Linked DNA regions of Homo sapiens: region 1 is linked to region 2. Evidence: fine-mapped expression QTL. Tissue or cell type: cerebellar hemisphere. Region 2 holds a variant in brackets; the other region holds the start of a gene. All regions are shown on one strand. Distances are between the middles of the regions.

The links. PIP is the estimated chance that this variant, and not a neighbour inherited with it, causes the effect. A credible set is the group of variants that fine-mapping cannot tell apart.
Region 1: VILL starts here. The variant in region 2 is the best candidate, but not a certain one, in a credible set for the expression of VILL in cerebellar hemisphere (GTEx, PIP 0.81).

Annotation. Positions count from the first base shown.
Region 1 is chr3:37,988,317-37,993,542 of GRCh38, reverse strand. VILL (villin like) reads right to left here and starts at 2,757. Exons shown (of 20, transcript NM_015873.4): 1 at 2,714-2,757. RefSeq lists an enhancer at 451-745.
Region 2 is chr3:37,717,874-37,723,099 of GRCh38, reverse strand. All of the region lies in intron 18 of ITGA9 (integrin subunit alpha 9), which reads right to left. Among named protein-coding and RNA genes, the nearest start is that of ITGA9-AS1, 140 kb to the left of the region's middle. The variant G/A (reference allele first, on the strand shown) is at 2,790.

The DNA of each region.
Region 1 (5,226 bases), 270 kb before region 2:
CACAAATGTCAGCACACAGACTATGAAGACTCAGATTCTGCAGCAAGTGACAGGCTCAGCTGATATGAGTGGGTTGGGCAGATTAGGCATAAACACTTGACAATTTTTTTTTCCAGTTTTTTCGAGACAGGGTCTTGCTCTGCCACCCTAGCCTGCAGTGCATGATTCGAACACACTTCACTGCAACCTCCACCTTCTGGGTTCAAGTGATCTTCCCGCTTCAGCTGACAAATTCTTGAAACAGAGCTGAACTCTGTATAAACACAGGCTCTGCAAACAGCCACAGGCTCTGCAAATAGCGATTTAGCTTGCTCGAGTCTGTGCTCTGTGGTTCTGCGCGTGCAGAGAGGGAGAGAATGAGAGGGCAGTGAATGACAGTGACATGGAATGAGAAGTACCTGGGGGAAGGAAGGGACCCTCACTTCTGTCGATTTTGTTATGTCTTGGCACTTCATATTCAATTACCTGAGGCTTCCCTGCACCACTCCTTCAGAAACCTGTGTGTGAGGTTTGGTCCAAAAGTCACTTCTTTCTGAATCTCTCACTCAGGGTGACCCTGGTGTGTTAGTCCTTCCCTCCTCCCCCTCCACTCCCACTGTGTCTTATCAATAGCAGGAACACCCTTGGCTCCAGGCAGAACAAGGTGAGGGGACAGAGTTACAGAATCAGGTGTGGCACAATAGGTGTCATAGAGTGGCTCACATTCCTTACACCTTTGTCAGGGCCCCTGGTTTGGCCCTGGTGAGTTCACAGTACACTGTGGCAACACCCAACATGTAGCCAAAGAAATGTGGGAGCGGAGGAGGCTGTGGGGCAGGGGAGCAGGGGCAGAGTGGGCTGTCCTTCTAGGGGGTTAGAGCTGGGTCCGTCACAGCTCACAGCTCCTCCCGACACCCTATGGAAACCATAGGATGGTTGTTGGCTATGGTCTCCCTCACCAGAGCAGCAGATTCCTGAAGGCAGGGGTTTGTCTTGTTGTTTACTGTGGGATCCCAGCTGCCCGGCCCCCAGCAGGTACTCAGTAAGTACTTGTTGAATGAGTGAAGTGTGCTGCCCTGCGACTGGACTGAGTGAAAATGAATAGAGAAGGGAGCCGTCCGTGCACCCTAATTGCCCCAAGAACTGTTGCCACAGTTGATGGCCTGTTGGTGTGACAATGACATGAGTGACAGGCAGACATAGTGGCCATGAAAAGGTGATCTCAAGCAACAGAAAACGTGAGGACATTGGGTGACAAGCAGGATGTCCACCAGTGGTGGCCCCGTAGAAGGACACTGAGTAATAGGCAGAAATAGTGACCAGTGACAGTTACCAGAGGCCCAGGCAGGCAGTGACCAGAGGTGCAGACAGAAACTGTGAGCTGTAGCTCATGGAAGAGTACAACATGGTGACAGAGTGCCAGAAAGACTACTGGATGGCCTCAGAACAGTGTCAACCAGGGCACATGGGGGACTGGAAAGTCAAACTGGCAGCCAAAAAGTTGGGACTCGGCTGGTGTCACTGGGAGAGGCAGCATCGCCCCCAGGGGTCCGGGAGCCCGTCTGATATCCAGCCCCAGCCCGTAGAGCCAAGCCCTCAGCTGCCAGGGCTGAGGTCGCACTCGCATGGCACCTGTGTTCATTCTCTTTCACCTGGACTCCAGGGAGGAATGGGTGCTCAAAGATTGGGGGCCTCCTCCCTCCCCACAGTGCCACCTCCAGCCTCCCAAGCCCTCCTGCCCTCTTTCCTCAGGGGAACCCCCCACAGTGCCCCCTCCAGCCTCCCAAACCCTCCTGCCCTCTTTCCTCTGGGGAACTCCCTTTCACCACCTTCCCAAGTGGGAACCCTCCTATCCCTGGTCCTCTCCCTTCTCCTAGAAGCCCTCCTTCTCTTCCCTGGGGGTGCACTTCCTCCACTCAGGGCCCCTTTCTCTTCCGGATGCCCAATTCCTTCCCTGGTTTCCCTTTCTCTCCCCATGCCCCACGCCTCCGCTTTTCCAGGGTTTCCCTCTGTCCCCACTGGGTGCCCCTGCCTCCCCCTGGTTCTTCTTTCTCCCCTCTGATTTCCCCTCTCCCCTGGGATCCTTCCCTTTTTCTCCCATTTTTCCTCCCCAGGCACCTCCTCCTTTCCTGGTTCCCTGTCTTCCCCTACACCCCTCCCTCTCTCCCTCCCCACCCTCCTCCCCAGGTCTTTCCTTCTCTTCCCCAGGCTCCCCTCTCTTTCCCGGGGCACTCCCTACCCGCTTCACACACCCCCTCTTCTCTCCCCCTGCCCCTCGTGTCCCTGGGTGCCTCCTCTCTCCTCGCTTTCTCCCTCCTCCAGTGCCTCTTTCTCTCCCTACAGGAGCCCTTCCTTCTTTTGTGGGTACCTTTGAAGGGAGCCCGAGATTACCTTGCTCAGTTTCCATGGAGCAGGGAGTGGTGCCGCCCTCTAGAGTGAGGGGAAAGGAGGATGGGGCCAGGGTTGGGGGCAGGCACACTGAATTTGTGGGCCACGGACTTCCCTGCCCATCTACAAAATCTGCCACTTTCTTCCCCTTGGGCTGCCGGCCACAGCTGCCCTGCCCCATCAGTGTTTTCACCTGCTGGGCTGCTGCCGCCTCCCAATTCTGCCGCGGAGGCTCTGTGGCCCTGAGCCCTGGGACCCTATGCTCTATGCCCTTGACTTGAATAGCCCACTCTGCCCCACTGGTTCCCTGGAAACCCCCGCCCCCCAACTCTCTGCCCAGGCCTACCTGCTGGAAACTGCTCCCGCGCCTTCGCCCTGCCTGTGGGCAGTGCTAGGCCTGGCACGGGGCCAGTCTCTGCCTCCCTACTCCTGGTCCCCACCACTGTAACTCAATCCTAGCTCCTGCCCTGCAGGACACACCCCACCACACAGTGCTCAGCGGGCTAGGCATTCACTTAGTCAGCCAGTCAACAAATATCGAGCAAGCCGTCGGGACCAGCGCCCTCCCCAGGGCTATGGTTAAGTCTCCCAGGTCTCACTGCCTGGGTACCAGTGGCCAGAGAGAGCAGGGGATGGAGGCCTGGACTGGGCTAAGAGGTGGGGTGTGGAAGATACTGGGATTTCCTTCTCTGGAGTACTAGATGGGCCCCTGATCCCTCACCCGGAGTGGTGGGCTCCGCCTGGACCAAGAGGGCCAGGCCACTCCAGCAAACTTTAGGAGGAAGTAGGACCAAGGCTGGGGGCTGTGGGGTCAGGCTCTGTGAGACCCAGCTCACTTCAGGAGGGGAAGGTGGTCAGGGCTCCCTCTAGATATTTCTGCTGTCCCTACCCAAATGTGAGCTCACTGCCTGGCACAGCCCTCCTCAGGGAACCCTGATACCCATCATGGGAGAGGCCAGTCCAGCTCTTGCAGCGAAGACACCTCTCCCTCACCTCAGCTGCCACTCCACTGCCACTCTCTCTCTCTCACTGTGGGGTGGAGGGGCTGCAAACAGAGCCTTCCAGAAACTCCAGGGGCACAACCTCCTCTTGGCGGCTTAGGGCCTCAGTCCCAGCCAAGGCCCAGCCAGCGTGGGCCATCCCATCAAAGCCACGCTGCTAAAGCCTGCCCACTGCCCAAGACCCTCTCCCTGTGTTCAGTCTTCACCCCACAAAGGTCTCTGTTACAGGGGTCTGGGGACTTGGGGACTCGGGGGCAGTCTGTGTCCAGCAAGACCTACAGCTAGTGTGTGACTGTGTTTAACAGACACAATGCAGGGTCCCTGTGTGTGAAGGGATGCCTGTGTCACAGGCATTTGGCTCGTCCCCATGTGTGCCATTGCCTGTCCGACCTCATGTGTGTGCCTGTATCCTGGCATGTCTGTCTGATCCCCACTTGGGACAGGGACCCTGTCTGTGACAGTGGCAGTGTGTCCACTGTACCTGTGCATACCCGTTTCCCTGTCCCTTTTTGTCTCTGTGCCCAGGAAGACTCTGTGTCCTCACTTCTTCCCACCGACTCTTCCCCCATCTCCCCTCAGCCCACCCGCTCTGTTTGTTCTTGAATTCCCTGGCAATGGCTCTTTCCTAAGTCACCAATGCCCGCTGTCAACCAAGCGGCAGTCAGTTCAGTCACCATTGTTCCTTCCCCTCTCACTCCACCTGTCTCCTTCAGGCCTCTAAATGGCAGCAGGAGCAGAGCTTGGGCCTTCACTCCTGTTTGTTTTCCAGTTTCCTTCCCAGTTCCAGTCTGAAGGCTGCAAATAGCATGGAAACGCCAGTGTCTCCCTGACCCAACTCCCCCGAACCTTGCCCCGGCCTAAGTCTCCATCTTCCGTCTGTCACATCTCTCCCAGCACGTTTGGTCTCACATTTAACATCGCCTCAGGCCCCTCCCAGATCTACCCTCTCTGAGCCCCAGGAACACGTTCAGTGTGAACATCCAGAGGGTGCTTAGGCCCCAAACCTGGAGTTGCCCTGATTTCTCTCTCCCGCAAGCCACTGGCCCGTCGGCAGCTGGTTCATGGTGGATCCTGGGCCTGGCCCTCCCTCTCACGCCTCCTGCCTGCTCCGGAGCCAGCCTCCCTCTGTGTCTCTGGGTCTGCCTGGCCGCTACGACCATCCTACCACAGTAGCCAGAGGGATCTTTTTTCCTAAGATTTAAAAAAATTGTGGTAAAATATAAAAAATCTTTTTTTCACAAGATTTAAAAAATTGTAGTAAAATATACTTAAAATTTACCATTGTATCCCCTTTTTATTTATGTATTTATTTGAGACAGAGTTTTGCTCTTGTTGCCGAGGCTGGAGTGCAATGGCATGATCTTGGCTCACTGCAGCCTCCGCCTCCCGGGTTCAAGTGATTCTCCTGCCTCAGTCCCCTGAGTAGCTGGGATTACAGGCATGCACCACCACACCCGGCTAATTTTGTATTTTTGGTAGAGACGGGGTTTCACTATGTTGGTCAGGCTGGTTGCGAACTCCTGACCTCCAGCGATCCACCGGCCTCAGCCTCCCAAAGTGTTGGGATTACAGGCGTAAGCCACCACGCCCGGCCTGTATCCACTTTTAAGTATACGGTTCTGTGGTGTTAAGGACACTCATATTGTTGTGCAACCACTGCCACCATTTCCAGAACTCTTTCATCTTACAAAACGGAAACTCTGCAACTCTGCACCCATTAAACATAGACTCCCCATTGCCCCCAGCCCCTTGCAACCACCATTCTATTTTCTATGATTTTGACTAACTAGAGGGAAAATTCAACCTCAGAATTTAACCATAAACCCGCTCACATCACCCCCCTCCCCAAACCTTCCAG
Region 2 (5,226 bases):
CAATAATCACATGAAAAGATGCTCAACATCATTAACCTTCAGGGAAATCTAAATCAAAACCACAAAGAGATGCTACTTCCTACTCATTAGAATGGCTACAATCAAAAAGACAAACAATAACAAATGCTGGACTAGATGTGGACAAACTGGAACCATTACATACTACTGATGGGAATGTAAAATAGTATAGTGGCTTTGAAAAGCAGCCTGGCAGTTTCTTAACAGTGAAATATAAGTTACCATGTAACCCAGCAATCCCACTCTTAGGTATGTACCCAAGAGAAATAAAAACATGAGCCCACACAAAAATGTGTACACAAATATTGATAGCAGCATAATTTGTAATAGCCAAAAACTGGAAACAATCTAATGTCCAGCAACTGATGAATGAATAAACACAATGTGGTATATCCATACAATGGAATATTATTCAGCCATGAAAAAGAATGAAGTATGACATATGCCACAAACAAATGAACTCTGAAAACATTACGCTAAGTGACAGAAGCCAGTCACAAAGGACTGGCTCCATTTCATATAAATGATTCCACTTATACACAATGTCCAGAATAGGCAAATCTAGAGAGAAAGAAAGTAGATTTCTGGTTGCCTTTGGCTGGTGGAAATAGGGGAAGGGGTACGACAGCTAAGAAGTATGGTGGTTCTTTTTGAGGTAATGAAATGTTCTAAAATTGACTCTGGCAATAGATGCACAACTCTGAAAATATACTCAAACCCACTGAATTGTATACATTAAAAGGGTTAATTGCATGGCATCTGAACTATATCTCAACGAATCTGTTTAAAGTAATCACAGCCTGTGAGAGGCATTCTGAAGGAGGCAAACAGCATTATACCTGGTATAGGTGGAGGGAAGGCCCTTTTGAGGAGGTACCATTTAGCTGAGACCTGCAAGCTAAGAAGGGGCTAAGCACATGAAGGGAGAGTGAAGAGTGTCCCTGGCAGAAGAACCAGCATGTGTGGGGAAAGGCATGGTGAGTTCCAGAAACCAACCAGAGGCCACACGTTTGGGAAGCAACAGATGAAAGGCCAGGCCATGCGGAGCCCTGCTGCTCATCAGGAGTTTGGACTTGGTTCCAAGTACAGAGGGAAGGCACTGGAGGGTTCTGAGCAGGGGAGTCATACCATCTGATTCACATTTTTAAGAATATTTTTAGTTGTGATGTAAGAATAGATCAGACGGGGCCTGGGGTGGGGAACGCGCAACAATGAGCAGAAAAGGTTTCTTCCTCACCTCTCCCAAAACATTCATGGAAATGGAGTCTGAAGAGGTGTGGAGCACAGATCAGATAAACTAAAAGTATCCTTAAGGAACTGGAGCACACAGTGACTCCAGCGCAGATGCCAAATGCAGACAATGGGCTGGCAAGGCTGGGAAGGAGCTGGCCACGAACACTCCGAGGGAACCAGAGGTGATTACCCATGCACTTGGGGAATTTGGAGAAGCAGGACAAAGAAAGCACTACAAAGCCAGTTGCTTCCTTGAAATTTTGTCAAAACATCCATGTGGAAGCCAAGGCCTACACTATTCTAAGTTTGTTCTTTCCAAGCTTAAAAAAGTGAAACAAGCAAAAGCTAGAGTCAAAACAAATGTTTGAGGCAGATGAACCATGTAACTGCTAATGCAAAATTCCTCTCCCAAGTTAGGTAGTGAAATTTGGAGGCCAGGTATGGATGGCTCACACCTGTAATCCCGGCATTTTGGGAGGCCAAGGCAGGAGGTTCACTTGAGGCCAGGAGTTCAAGGCCAGCCTAGACAACATAGTAAGACCCTGTCTCAACAAAAATAAAAATTAGCCAGAGGTGGTGGCACACACCTGTGGTCCCAGCTACTTGGGAGTTGAGGTGGGAAGATCACAGGCCCAGGAATTGAAGGTTGCAGTGAGATATGATTGCACCACTGCACTCCAGCCTGGGTGCCACAGTGAGATTTTTTCTTAAAAAAAAAAAAAAAAAAAAAAAAAGGCAAGAAAAGAAATTTGATTGAAGTGCACATGAAATAACCCTGTGCCAATCACTGGCAGTTGCAGACTGGCTGGCATCAGAAGCAATTATGTGATCAAATGGAGACGGCGAGGTCTCCTCCCAAAGAGTCCACTTGGCCCTGAGGAAAAAAGTGCTTTGAAAGATTTAAAATAAGTAAAAATAATCTTACATTTTAAAAAACCAATACAAATTCAAAAGCACTTGAATAAGCTGTCTCGTTCCTAACGTGTCCCTCTGTAGTGCGGTGAATCAACCCTGCTTAGGACTAATCTTTACATTTTTCCAAAGTGAATAAAGACAAAAACACTCCCCTAAATCCTGGTGATTGTCCTCTTCAGGACCACAGGATATGAAATTAAGAAGCTAAATAAACAAATAAATCTAAGTCAACCAGTCGTAACAGAAAGCCCAAAGTACAAAGACTAGCAAGCCATCCCTTCTGAAGCCTAAGAAGTAATTAAAGTATTTGATGCTCACTCAGGAAGTTTTTCCTTCTGTTAAATAGTCACAAACGAATTATTTTCAGATTTTTAAAAATTAGTTTTTCTTCAATTAAAAAAAATTTCCTCGGAGGCTGCAAATTCTTAGTCAACAAACTAAGAATTCAAGTTGAATTCCATCTAATGAATCAAGTTATTTTTATTTTCTATCACTCTTTTCCTTTGCCTTATAGGCTGACGGAAAACTCAACAAGTGGGGACCTCCCCTGAAATGATAGGAAAGAATTTAACCTCATGGCATAAAAACAACTCATGAATGGTGTTTGGATGAAAAGGTTATGC[G/A]GGAGTCAAATGTTTGAAGGGGCTCAGGTACTTACTAAAATCCTGGCCAGAAATCTTCATAGAAATGTACTCATGGTGAAGAGTTCCTTCTCACCTGCAAACCCCCTTCTACTCTGCTCATTCAAAACTGGTTTGCAACTTGAAGCTGTCAAGGTCTTGCTACTCAAAGTGTGGTCCCTGGACATGCTCACTGTTAGAAATGCAGATTCTCAGGCCCCACCCTAGACCTGATGAGTTAGAAGCTAACCTCTGCGAACATGGACATTTGAGAAGCACTGCTCCATGTCACTGAGCCCTCCCTGGAGGAAACATGATATTCACCCCACGAAGACCACCTTCCTCATGATGCCCTCTGCCCTCCAGAAAAATAACATATACACTGCCCATGTTATTTGAGAGATATTTCCTGTGTGAGTATACACTTTTCTGGAACTGAAGACCTGTCTATTCACACGGCCCTTATCTGAGCAGACTTTGGGACAAGCATTGGGGTGCAATTAGTTTGTATGGGCAGTGATCTCAGGGAGCTCCAGGAGAGGGTAGTGAAGTGTGTCATCAACGGGTGAGAAAGCTGGGGCATCTATCCATCTCACCGGTCTCTCCTTGGTAGAAAACTGTACTGGGGACGTTAACTATCCTGCACTTCCAGCCCTCCTGACTCGGGTGCAGCACACTCCTGTAGCCAGAGAAAGTTCCTAACCAGAGAAACAGTTCGCCTATGGCGAACTGTCATAGGCGGCCTCCAGGGTGGGTGGAGGGGACATGGAGGGTGTTGACAGCATCTCTCCCACATCCTCTCCCTCTGCACAAGCAACTGGGCTGGTGGAGCTGTGGACTGAGAACAGAGGCCAGGGGCAGCTACTGCTGAACTTCCTTTGGCTGAAGATGAAGGGATGGGGCCTGAGAGGACCTCTTCCTAGTCTAGCACCTTCAGAGTGTATCTCCACAGATCAACCTGTCAGCTCATGGAGCCCTGTCTCAGGGGGCAGCAGCTTACTAATCTCTTCCCTCGGGTTGGCACATCCACTTTGCTACTCCTGGGTACATCTCAGGACTCTTCTTAAAGAACTGGTATCCACTTCTAGGATGATCCTTCCTCCCTTTCTCTTTGTTGCTTCAACAGGTCAGCTCCAATCTCCTCTTACCTAGACCAGCACAAAACGGCCTCCTGGTGGATGCCTTGCACACACCTCTCTCCCCTGATATGTTCTGCAAACTGCCACAGATGAATCCCAATATGACACTTTGTTTTTGCTAAAAAGCCTTCAAAGGTTGTTAACAAGCAACATTCTTCATTGGTTCTTAACTGGGGGTGTGCACTGGAACCACCTGGGAGCCAGAGATGCCACACCCAGCTGTGCAGGCTGATCACTGCATAGAAGACCTGGCTGCTCTCACCAAGCCCTTCACCTTGGCATGAGTCTCTCCAATTTGCATAACAGTGCTGGAAAGGTGACGATGACAATCCTATGAAAAGCTTTGTAAAAAAGACCCAGATGCAGGCCCCTCTGTGTGGCCGCAGAATTAATGCATGTGGCGTCGGCATGCATTTGCTGAAAGCTCCCCAGGTGGTTCTGATGGACAATCAAGTTAAAAACCCTCAAAAGTGAAACTGCATTGAAATTCTCTGGTGGGCTTGTTAAAGATGCAGATTGCAGGCCCCAGCCTCCAGAGTGGGATTCTTTACAGCAGAAGCAGAGTCAGGAAACCTGGATCTTGAATCATCTGAGGCAAGTGTTCTACACTAGCCTTTGAAACACTGGTCCCAAGAGCTAATGTAGCCACTGCCATTTTTGAAGTTAAGAGATTGAGACCTAGAGTATGTGAGAAAAAAAATGCCTTCTCTGGGATTCTTATGCTGGTGAGGACTGAGGAACCCTGGTATTATGGTCCTCTCTGTCTTTGAGTCAGTTGTCTGGAGCCTCCTATGTCATGTGCCTCTGGGGCAGGGACTCAGAGAAATGAACTCTGCAGACCATGGCTGGCTCCAACATGGGTGCCTACCTGCTGTGCTCCCAGAGGAAGCCCATCTACTCGTTCAACAAGTGTTTCTTATTTTGTCTCAAATGGGAAACAGCTTCTACACAATAATTCTCATGTGTGAGACACGTATGTTTTCTGTTACATCTTACATTCCTTTGTTCATGCTCTCATTTAATAATTACTGAGTAGCCTCAGTGTCCTTTGTTGGGCCATATGCCTTTGTAACACAGTTCCTGCTGTCTCCAAGGAGAAGTTCCCAGCCTAGGAGGAAGAAGAAGAACTGGTTCAAGGAAAGACACTTATCATCTCACATGATGAATGCATGGGGGTGCTGTTGCACCAGGGGCTGAAACTGGCCTCCCTTTACCAGAGAAGCATTGGCTGTCCCCATTCCCACCCCACAGGTCGTATTTTACAGCTCATTGTTATTACCATTGTTTTACCTTTCAACTAA